Regions from separate parts of the Homo sapiens genome. Here region 2 is reported to be linked to region 1. Evidence: microRNA targets listed by miRTarBase, many of them from high-throughput screens and not tested one by one. Region 1 holds a microRNA gene; the other region holds the end of a gene's coding sequence.
Evidence for each region. Region 1 holds the annotated microRNA hsa-miR-5194 (UGAGGGGUUUGGAAUGGGAUGG, at 1,764-1,785, opposite strand). A microRNA usually pairs through its seed, bases 2 to 8, with sites in the 3' UTR of a target mRNA and lowers its output. Matches are read on the target gene's strand: a 7mer-m8 pairs with bases 2 to 8, a 7mer-A1 pairs with bases 2 to 7 and ends in A, and an 8mer does both.

Region 1 (5,372 bases):
TATATATATACATATATATGTGTATATATATACATATATATGTGTATATATATACATATATATATGTATATATATATGTATATATATACACACATATATCTGGAACCTCCCACCCAGGAAGTGTAAGCACACCCAAGGTATGAGCAGATTAAAGAAATCCTGCAGAAGGGGGAACACATGCATAGAGTATGCTGGCAAGGTCACATATAGAAAATGGGTGGGGGGACTTGAAAGCAGAGGTATAAATCCTATGTGCACCTTATTTGCTCAAGTCTACATGGACCAGCATCCAAACATTGAAATTTTCCTTTCAAATTCAATCCCCCAGAGTGTATGGTCTCAGGACCCTTCTTTCCCCCAAATCTTTTCTAGTGGGGATGCATGTATGCAGACAATGCAAAGTGCTACAAATCGCAACACCAAATGCATCAAGAGGTAGATTATTAGTATGAGTCAGTTTCACACTAACTTTACCAAAAACCTCACTGCTCACATTAGCTCAAGTAATCTACTTACAACCACAATTATAAATTCTGAGCTTCCTTGGCTGACGAGTTTGCAGTAGGTGGTTCTTGGCCCTGAGGGCTGCTGAGATGCCCGCCGTTATGAGATGCCCACTGAGAAAACCACCGCCCTCTCCCAGCAGGGTCCAGCAGGAGCAGTGTCTGCTCTCGGCTACACAACTCCATTCATAGACTTTTCCAGTTACGTTTGAGGTTCACCCAAAGGAGGTAGTAAAAACAGGAGGTGGGCACTGAAGCTGGCCTGGTATGTTTGAATTCCAGCTCTGCTTTTTATCAGCCTCCAGGTTTTCTCAGTTTCCTCATCTGTAAAACGGGAATAATATTACCTGCCTCACAGAGTTACCATGAAAGTAAGAAATAAAATATTCAAAGTATATGACATGGCTGGGCGCAGTGGCTCACGCCTGTAATCCCAGCACTTTGGGAGGCCGAGGCAGGTGGATCGCCTGAGGTCAGGAGTTCGAGACCAGCCTGCCCAACATGGTGAAACCCTGTCGCTACTAAAAATACAACATTAGCTGGGCGTGGTGGCACAGGCCTATAATCCCAGCTACTTTGGAGGCTAAGGCAGGAGAATTGCTTGAACCTGGGAGACGGAGGTTGCGCTGAGCCGAGATTGCACCATTGCACTCCAGCCTGGGCAACAAGAGCGAAACTCCATCTCCAAAAACAGCAACAACAACAAAGTACAGGACACTTGCTCCATGCTCCATAAAAGAAAGTTAATATTGCCATAAAGGAGACCAAAAAAATCACAGAAACCCACGACGTGATCCTGATGGGAGCCCTGTTAAGAGGGGCTTCCAGGCCAGGCATGGTGGCTCACGCCTGTAATCCCAGCACTTTAGGAGGCCGAGGCGGCCAGATCATCTGAGGTCAGGTGTTCAAGACTGGCCTGTCCAACATGGTGAAACTCCATCTCTACTAAAAGTACAAAAATTAGCCAGGTATGGTTGCGGGCGCCTGTAGTCCCAGCTACTCGGGAGGCTGAGGCAGGAGAATTGCTTGAACCCGGGAGGTGGAGGTTGCAGTGAGCCGAGATCGTGCCACTGCACTCCAGCCTGGGTGACAGAGCGAGACTCTGTCTCTAAATAAATAAATAAATAGAGGGGCTTTCTGCCAGGTCCATAGCTGCCTGCACACATAGTCCAGAAATGTGACCTCACTCCCTAGCTCCTGCTCCACTCGCCACCATCAACCTGCTGGCCTGTCATTCATGGTGTCTGGTGACTCTCCCTGCCATCCCATTCCAAACCCCTCAGAAAAGCTTATCCAATTCCTGAGTGAAAAGAATGGGCCTAGAAGGGCTGAGTTTAAGTTAACCCAAAGAAATAAACCCAAACTCCTTCATTCTCCAAGCTGTTCAGGCCTCAGGGACATGTGTGGGGTGACTGTGGGGCACACACTATCATTCCCCATGTGGATCCATCACGGGGCCTAGCACACAGGAGGTGCACACTCAGTGACTGTTCTGTTGTTGAATGGCAGGATGAATCTCACTCCTCCCTCAAGACCTGAAAACTTGAGAGTTATGAAGGCATGTTTAGGAATGACTGTAAAATACCACTTTTCAGAAAACACAGAAATCTCCATTTGATTCTTTCATTTGCAAGCCTGTTTGATCTGTCTACACACTGGTTGGTCTCTCGTGTCCCAGAAGCAGAGGGCAAGACACAAAACCAGAGTTCAGGGGAGCAAAGCAGACATTTTAGGAAGTTATTGCCCAAGTTTCACTTCCACGTCGTCTTCTGCATTCTACTTCAACTCTGGTTTTGAGCAAAGCTGGGGCTGGTGAAGAAACTTCCCTTAGTCTACATGTTCCTCTCCCTGAGTCCCAGCACTGAGGCTCTGTAGACCAGGGACTCAAATTACTGAGCACTCACTGATGCTAGACCCTATGTCAGGCATATTCAGACATCTTCTGACCTAAGAGCCACAACAAGCTGGAAAACAGACACTGAGATGCCAAGAGAGGTTATGCAATGTGCAAAAGACTTCACAGTCAGGGAGTCGGGTCTGAATCAAAGATCTCCTTGGCTCCAAGGTCCTTGCTTCTCAACCTGCCACTGTCCTTTTTCAAAGGCGCCAACCACTAACATGGCAAAGTGTTTCATTTTTCATAAAGCCATCTGAGGAGTTCAAAAGCATCTTTTTTTTTTTTTTTGAGACAGAGTTTCCCTCTTGTCACCCAGGCTGGAGTGCAATGGCACAATTTTGGCTCATTGCAACCTCTGCCTCCCAGGTTCAAGCAATTCTCCTGCCTCAGCCTCCCGAGTAGCTGGGATTACAGGTGCCAGCCAACACGCCCAGCTAATTTTTGTATTTTTAGTAGAAACAGGGTTTCACCATGTTGGCCAGGCTGGTCTTGAACTCCTGACCTCAGGTGATCCACCCGCCTCGGCCTTCCAAAGTGCTGGGATTACAGGTGTGAGCCACTGCGCCCGGCCCAAAAGCATCATGAAAAACTGTCCCCCTGCATTAAATTCAGATCCCATCTCTGCCAGAAGGATAGCCCTGGACAAATCATACAGCTCTCACCCACCTGTGACTATGCCCCATGGGAGAAGGACGTGTATATGGAGGCTTTCTGCTAGACTATGCTAGATGCTTTGATACACATTATCCCACTCAATCCTCCAAACATTCCAGGGAAGCAGGTGATAGTAGCCCAGCTTCATCAATGACAATTCTGGTTCTGCAGTGGGATGTGATTTGCCCAAGGTCATGCAGCGCTGAGAAGCAGGCCCAGGGCTCCATCAGCCCTGCCATGCAATAGGCTTTGTTGAGTGAGCACTGGATGTAAATTCCAAAGAGCTTAAAGCGGCCAGACAGAGCCAGTGACAGGAGACTCTATTAGGCAGATGAGGAAAGAATGGAGCTTTTCTTCCTCCTACCGCCCAAGCCTTTCCCATCCTTAACTCCTCTGCACAACGGGGCCCTCACTGTCCTTCCCCCACCTTCTTATCAAAGGATGCTGGTGCTGGGAGGGGGAAAAGACAGAAAGAGGATTAGTCTCTGGCATGGTTTATGTTGATTTCAAAGCTGTCACTTTTCCCACATTGGGCCTTCTTTTTCACTGTGGATTTAAGTGCCTAGTCCCCTGATGAACGAAGGTCAAGGGCAGAGGTACATTTTGAACTAGAGAAAGTCCTCAGCATCCTCCTGCTCTCACAGCCTTACTGCTAAACACAGCAGTGGATGCAGAGGGTGGCACTGTGGAGCGGTGAGCAAAAACCAGGCTCAGGAGCCAGAGGCCTAGGTTCCAGTCCTGACTGTGCCTCTTGGTCAAGATGCTTCCCCCCAGGAGGTCCCAGTTCCCTTGTGTGTTAAAATTAGAGTACTGGATGCTTAGGCCTGAAACTCTGAGTATGGGGTTTCTGCTCAGTCCTTCAGCTCACACTGCCTCTCCTCCCCCGCTCCCTGAAGGCAGCCCCATCTCAATGGCTCACAGCATCTAGGCCCTCCTGGGCTTATTCAGCACCTGCTGGCAGACAGAGGTGGTCTCTCTCCCACCCCTTCCTGCTCCCACTGTCACCTGTCCTGAGGTCCATCCTAGGCCTTTGTCACTTTGTCATATGTGTGTTTTCGCATGCATGCCTCCTCCTCTAAGCTAACTTGGAAACCTCCAGGGTCATGTAGAGATTTGCACCATCAGCATCAGCCTGGCTCCTGAATGAATGAAGGGGAGAGGGTCAGGTTGGATGATCTCCTGGCCCACTGCACTCAAAGTATGGTCTACAATCCAGAGGCATCGCATCATGTGCAAAAGTGTTCAAAATGCAGCATCTCACCCTGCCCCAGCCCCTGCTCAGAACCTCCGAGGCAATCCCCACGTGATGCGCAGCACACTCAAGTTTGGAAAGTTCTCTTCCAACTCCTCCCTCCCTTGCTTCTACCACCTAGAAGCCTCCGGAACTATGGCCTTAGCAGGTCTCACTAAAACATAGCCCATCATTAACCAAAAGAGATCTGCCTTAGGAACCTTCTAGAAGCCCGCCACTGACTCTCACAAGCAGAATCTGAAATGTGTGCTCCCCGGGGGGACTCCTGGCACACATTACTCAGTGGCCCTCTCCGACCCTCAAGGAAGCCCAGGAAGCTTTCAAGAACGCTGAGGCGGCCAGGCGTAATGGCTCATGCCTGTAATCCCAGCACATTGGGAGGCTGAGGTGGGTAGATCACCTGAGGTCAGGAGTTCGAGACCGGCCTGGCCAATATGGGGAAACCCTGTCTCTACTAAAAATACAAAAATTAGCCTGGTGTGGTGGTACGCGCCTGTAATCCCAGCTACTCGGGAGGCTGGGGCAGGAGAATCGCTTGAACCCGGGAGGCAGAGGTTGCGGTGAGCTGAGATCATGCCATTGCACTCTAACCTGGGCAACAAAGCAAGACTCCATCTCAAAAAATAAAAATTAGGCTGGGCATGGTGGCTCACGCCTGTAATCCCAGCACGTTGGGAGGCCGAGGCGGGCGGATCACAAGGTCAGCAGATTGAGACCATCCTAGCAAACACGGTAAAACCCCATCTCTACTAAAAATACAAAAAAAAAAGAAAGAAAGAAATTAGCCAGGCATGGTGGCGGGTGCCTGTAGTCCCAGCTACTCGGGAGGCTGAGGCAGAAGAATGGCATGAATCCGGGAGGCGGAGCTTGCAGTGAGCCGAGATCGCACCACTGCACTCCAGCCTGGGCGACAGAGCGAGACTCCATCTCAAAACTAAAAATAAAAATAAAAATAATTAAAAAAAAAAAGAACGCTGAGGCCTGGCAGAGTCAGACAGACTGGCTGCCCACTCACCCACACGGATCCCATGTCCACGTTCAGAAAGCTCTCTTCCCTCATTTCTCT
Region 2 (5,372 bases), not on the chromosome of region 1:
CAAGGAATCGACAAGACAGATGAAAAAGAACCAAGACAAAACTCAGTCCCTTACTTTTTCCCAAGAAACATGCTTGAGATTCTGCTGCCACCTATTGGTGATTCCTCTTCAATACGGCTAGAGTCACAAAGGCTAAATTGGAAACCCAGTCAAGATTTCCCTCTTCAAAAAAAAATCACCCAGTCAAGATTTCCCTTTTCAAAAAAAACTTTTGCTATTGAAGACCACTGACAGGAAAGAAATATGGTACCCAAAAGGCTGCACTACAGTTTAAAAAGCAACTTAGAAGGTAGAATATTTTGGGGGTGGGGGTGGTGTGTGAAAGGCAAACTAAGTCTAAATTTAAGAACAGGGACATTAAAAACTTTATTCAATAAATACAACAAATAATTTAAAAATATATTTCAATTCCAAAGCCAATTAAGAAGAGGAAGTAGAGAGAAAGGGAAAAAAGTGGGGATGAGGAAGGTAGAGGAAAAGAGAAAGCGGCCAAACAATGGTTTGGTTGGGCTGTGTTTCAGAGTATACCACCCTTTAAAATTCTGATCAAATACTCTTGACCCATAAACCCTTAGCCCTTGTTCTGATGGGGTAGCCACAGGAGTCCACCAGCTGGGAATCATCCACTGAGCTCTGGATCAGAGCATTCTAGAGGCTGGAATGTCGGGGGAGTTTTAGGGGTAGTTTTCCGGTCATTCCTAAAACCATCCGTCCTAACTCCCAGGCAGGTTTAAATAGTGCAAACTCTTAGGCAGAGAGCTCCCAGCTGCATAGTTTCACAGGTGAGTGTCCCAAGCCAGGGCCTCCAGGAAACAGGTCCCAGAGTACCCAGGGGTCCAAAGCCACTTCGGTGAATGGAAATCTAAAGGTGAAGAGAGGGGAGGCCAGGGCACAGAGTAAAGCTCCTGGGCTAAGCCAGTGGCCAAGCCAGAAAACAATGCTGGGCAGAAAAGGGTTACAAGGCAGGTAGTCTGGACACTGGATTCAACAGCTTGCCATCAGCCAGGGAAAGTGAAGCTGAGGATGCATATGGAGCAGGGCCAGGAAGATCAGGAGAGCTGAGGGAGAACAGGAAAATTGGGAGGAAGGAAGAGGCAGCTCAGCAGCAAACTCCAGGAGAAATAACCAGCAGCCCTCACAGATTTGTGATTGTCTCTTAAAAAGATTTATTTTCTCTTCTTGCCTGAATGTACAAAGGCAAAAAGAGTACAGTTTGTATATATATATATTTATATATATATATAAAAAAACAAGGAACTTGGTAATGTACACTTTACAGAAGGGAAGAATCAGGAAGACTGAAATTAAATTCAACAGAGCAACGCCAATGGAACAAAATCTATGAACAGCAACACTGCCCCTCCAGCCCGGGCCTCCAGCTCGCCCCAACCTGCTCCCAATGGGAGGGCTGAGCACCAAGGCAAGCGGGTGGGCTGGGGCAGGAGGGGCTGGGGACAGGGCCTGGGAGGGGCTTGATCCCAGGAGGGGGGCCCATGGTAGGAGATCACTGGAAAGCTTCCTGGGATGCCCAAGTAATTAAAACAAACAACAAAGGCCCAGAATTATGGGGCCAACTAGCTGCCCAGTTGCATCTTGGGGGCATCAGAGTAGACAAGGGGATGGTGAGAGGGTATACGGGATAAGTGACATGGGTGGCCTCAAAGCCTGTATGAAATAATTCTCTAGCCCTCTGCAGTCTTAACTCGCAACTCTAAGTCCTGCCATGGCCCCTTAAACGTGGAAAAAAGAGACTCAAGAAATCACCATTTCATTTCATAGGGTGCCCTCTTACCCTTCTAAGCGTGTGGTTCTTTGACCTTGTGATGTGTGGAGAGAGTTCGGTAAGAGAAGGAAATTTCATACATGTACATGTACAAGGCAGGAAAAGGGGATGAAGGGAACTGCCATACCTTAAAATGAGGAAGTAGTTGATGTGGATCCTAAAGAGCAGCTCTCCAAGCCTTGCCTGATCTATCTGGGGATGAGGCCCCCTCCCTCTTTAGCTTCTCCTCTATGGGAAGCCCCGTGAGCAATGTCTGTGAGGGCCTGGGCAGGGGTGGCTCATAAACAGGCTTGGTCTGGTGGTCTTGGCCCTTGGTAGCAAATTTTTCCAGCCTTTGTTTGTGGGGTGGGATAGGATGGGGACCCCTGCTGAGCATCTCATCCCTCTGACTAGGTCATGGATGCCACAGGTAGCTCCCACCTGTGTTTCTCCTCCCCATGTAGAGGTGGGCAGCAAATCTTTCACTCAGCACTTGTCAAGAATCTCCACAGCTGCTGCTTCATGTTATTTCAGAGGGAAGACTAGGCCCGGCAGGCATCAGGATCTGCCATGGTGGCTTTCACCTGCTCTTCTGAGCAGCTCCTACTCTTCAGGGGAGACTTGGATATGAGGATCAAAGAGCCAAATGTTTAAGAAGAAAAATTAAAAAGGAAAAGAAAAACCTGTTCTCTTCTGGAGAACCCAAGGCTGCCCAGCTAATACAGAAGTTCGTCCTCTGTGTTACAGAATGAGTGGAAAGGGCAGGAATGCAGGGCCATGCCTGCCCAATGCAAAAGAAAATTACTCCTAACGGTTTCTTTACAATATATACAGAGTATGCTGCAGGCCAGTGCCACAGATACAAAACACACAACAATATTTAAAAACAAACAGGAACAGAGAGGGAACCTTGGCTCCACCTCACAGGAGCCCCAGGAGGGCATAATCAGGCTGAAATTCAGTCACCCTCTTGGTTGGGGTGACTCAGGTGGGGTGGGATGACGGTGTCTGCACTAGCTACTTCCACGGAGGAAAGGGAGGTCACTGCTCAGAGCACTGCCCATGAGGGCAGCAGAAGGCAGAGGGAATGATGGGTATGAGGGAGGCTGTTTTGGGGCCCTGCCAAGAGGTCTAAAACAATGGTTTTTGGGGAGGACTCAGAACCCAACTTGAACAAAAACGAGGAGGCAGAAACCTAGGGAAAAGGCCTGTAGATCAGAGGGGATCCTCTTGAGCAGATGGTGACCCTAAGCCTCTCAAGTGTAGGGTTCCAGGGTCCTTGGAAATCAACTACTACTGGGCATTGTGCTTACTGTCCCCTATTTCCCATTTTCCAAACTGAGTCGGAGCCAAGTTCCTGCTCCTAGTCACTTTTGGCACTCTGGTCACACACTCCCTTTTCCAGCCTACACTGGTGTCTGTCAGTCTTTATCTCTCTCTCTCAATCCAGAGGGTCATGGAAAGATAGGAGGGGAGAACAGAGGGATGATACCTCAAAAGCCAAGTAAGCTAAGCTCCCCACACCTTGGGGAAGACATGACCCCAATAAAGCTACCAAATCATCCTCACTTTCCCAGTACAAAGAGTATAAAGCTTCCATTGGGAGACTGCATTTCTAAGGAGAGCAGAGAAATGTTGGCTGCCTCAAAGCACAGCTCCACTGAGTACATTCTGAGACTCTAATAAGTAATGGCTTGGATGTGTTATTCCAGGGTCTAAGGAACAAATAACCTCCCATGGCCAGTGGCCCCTCAAACAAAATATGTGTTACCAAGAAACACAGCTTATATTGGCCCACATGGAGGTTATAGACTGAGCTATATAAAATCATGTACTTGTAGACAGAGGAATTGGGCTGTATATATCTGTGGCCTCAAATGAGGAAGATATCAGATGGCTAGATGACAGGACATCTCCAAGAACTGCTGGGTGCTCCCAGGGGCTGCCTTCTGGGCCTTGCCCTAAGGTGACCTGGCAGACTCCAAGGTTCCCCAAGCTGGGGGGAATACTAGTTTATCTGCCTGAGGCTTAAGAGCCAAGCAGTGGAAAAGAAGAGGCAAGACCAGTGTGGGGATCCCCCTGGGAAAGGCACCAAGGGGTTAGGAGGGAAGGGAAAAGGGCAAGGAGTTGGGGAATAAGAAGCAGCAGGACTTAGTGGGGACGCAGGTTCTACTTCACAGACGTCATTCATGCTCCAGCACCAGCTTGCTCCCAGTGTCCCTGGGGAGCCCTGTGCTGGTGTTGGAACCCCTGCCCCCTGCCTCACAGGCAGCTCAAGGCCATGTTGGGGCAGATGCCTTGGTCTTCCTTTCCAGGCTAGGTTGTGAGCGTTTATATGTGCTCATGTAAATGGGGAGAAGTCTCCACATTTGAAGACCTTGTTTTCACAATTATGTAGAAAACAACCCCCAATTTCTTTCCTGAGATTCTAGTTCCTCCACATGCTGCCAATTCCCAGGGTGCAAAGCACTAGGGAGATGCAGAATCTGGTGATGGTGGTAATGATGGTGAGGGGTATGGCTGCTGTGCTGTCTTCAGACCTTACCCAGTGCTTGGGGGTGGGGGTCCCTCCCTGGTGGGCGGGGGGGCTGGTACTGCTCCAGCAGCAGACCAAGGGCTTGGGGAACAGAGCAGTGGCTTCTCTGGGCTGAGGCCATGTTCCCCTGGTTGCTTCCCGTGCCTTCATCTCCACAGAGGCCACAATAGTCATAACTGTGGCTGAGAGAATAAATATTTTTGCTAAGTACCAGCTCTCCAGCTCCTGAGGAAGAGGTAGGGTCAGGTAGTCCGGAGGTCTGGTGGAGGTGAGATAGCCAAGGGTCTGCCTTCAGTCATGGTGGAAACGGCAAACAGGATGATCAACACCATTTAACTGATGTCTAAACGGCACCTTCAGCACCTCCTTGGGTAAGCCAGTCCGGGCCCGTGAAGCTGACTTTATCCGGGCACTTGGTGTCTGCAAGGGAAACATGGACAGATAACCAGGCACTCAGCCTGTTGGTAAAAAAACCACAAGGTGGCACTCCAAGAAAATGAATTGTAGGAGTGGCCAGTACTGGTCCCTAGGGGACACTGTGTTCCACAGGTCCTCTCAGATGCACATGGCTTCACGGGAGACTCTTGTACAAGAGGCTTGGCCAGGGTTCCATGGATTCCAGACTGCTGACCCCTCATAGCTATTTCTCACCTAGGGATTCTGTGATCCAGGTAGCAACTATCCCGGCTTTATGTGTTGCCCCAAATTAATAAAAGTGACTTACCATTCTCACCTCCTGGGGGGTGGGTAGAGTGAGGGAGTTGAGCCTTGTTGGCTGGCAACAATGGCTGTAGAAGAAAGCCCTGAATAAGCAGGAGAACATGTTAGTGTAGCACTCACAGAAACCTTCCATTAATCTTTTTCCCTGAGTTTTGGGGTGCTGACAGAAAAAAAAATCTGATACTCAGCCAGATATATTTGCTGGAGATAGATAATAAGGCTCTATTTCTCAGCTGATTGTTTCTCTTTGCCTTTGGGGAACACCTGTTCCATATTCTTCTGACTATCAAGGCCAGTATTCTGGAGGAATTTAAGAGTCCCCAAACTCCAAGGGAGGAATAAATATCATATGCT

Region 2: the mRNA of ZNF609 is a reported target of hsa-miR-5194. Seed matches in the 3' UTR shown: 8mer at 4,271-4,278.

The regions. Positions count from the first base shown.
Region 1 is chr8:130,006,597-130,011,968 of GRCh38, forward strand. It overlaps MIR5194 (microRNA 5194), which reads right to left and starts at 1,857; the gene lies at 1,738-1,857. All of the region lies in intron 1 of CYRIB (CYFIP related Rac1 interactor B), which reads right to left. It overlaps LOC124902025 (a long non-coding RNA gene), which reads right to left and starts at 4,724. Exons shown (of 2, transcript XR_007061113.1): 1 at 4,060-4,724.
Region 2 is chr15:64,681,038-64,686,409 of GRCh38, reverse strand. It overlaps ZNF609 (zinc finger protein 609), which reads right to left. Exons shown (of 10, transcript NM_015042.2): 9 at 5,023-5,101; 10 at 342-4,718. The coding sequence ends at 5,028. Among named protein-coding and RNA genes, the nearest start is that of OAZ2, 20 kb to the left of the region's middle. RefSeq lists an enhancer at 367-868.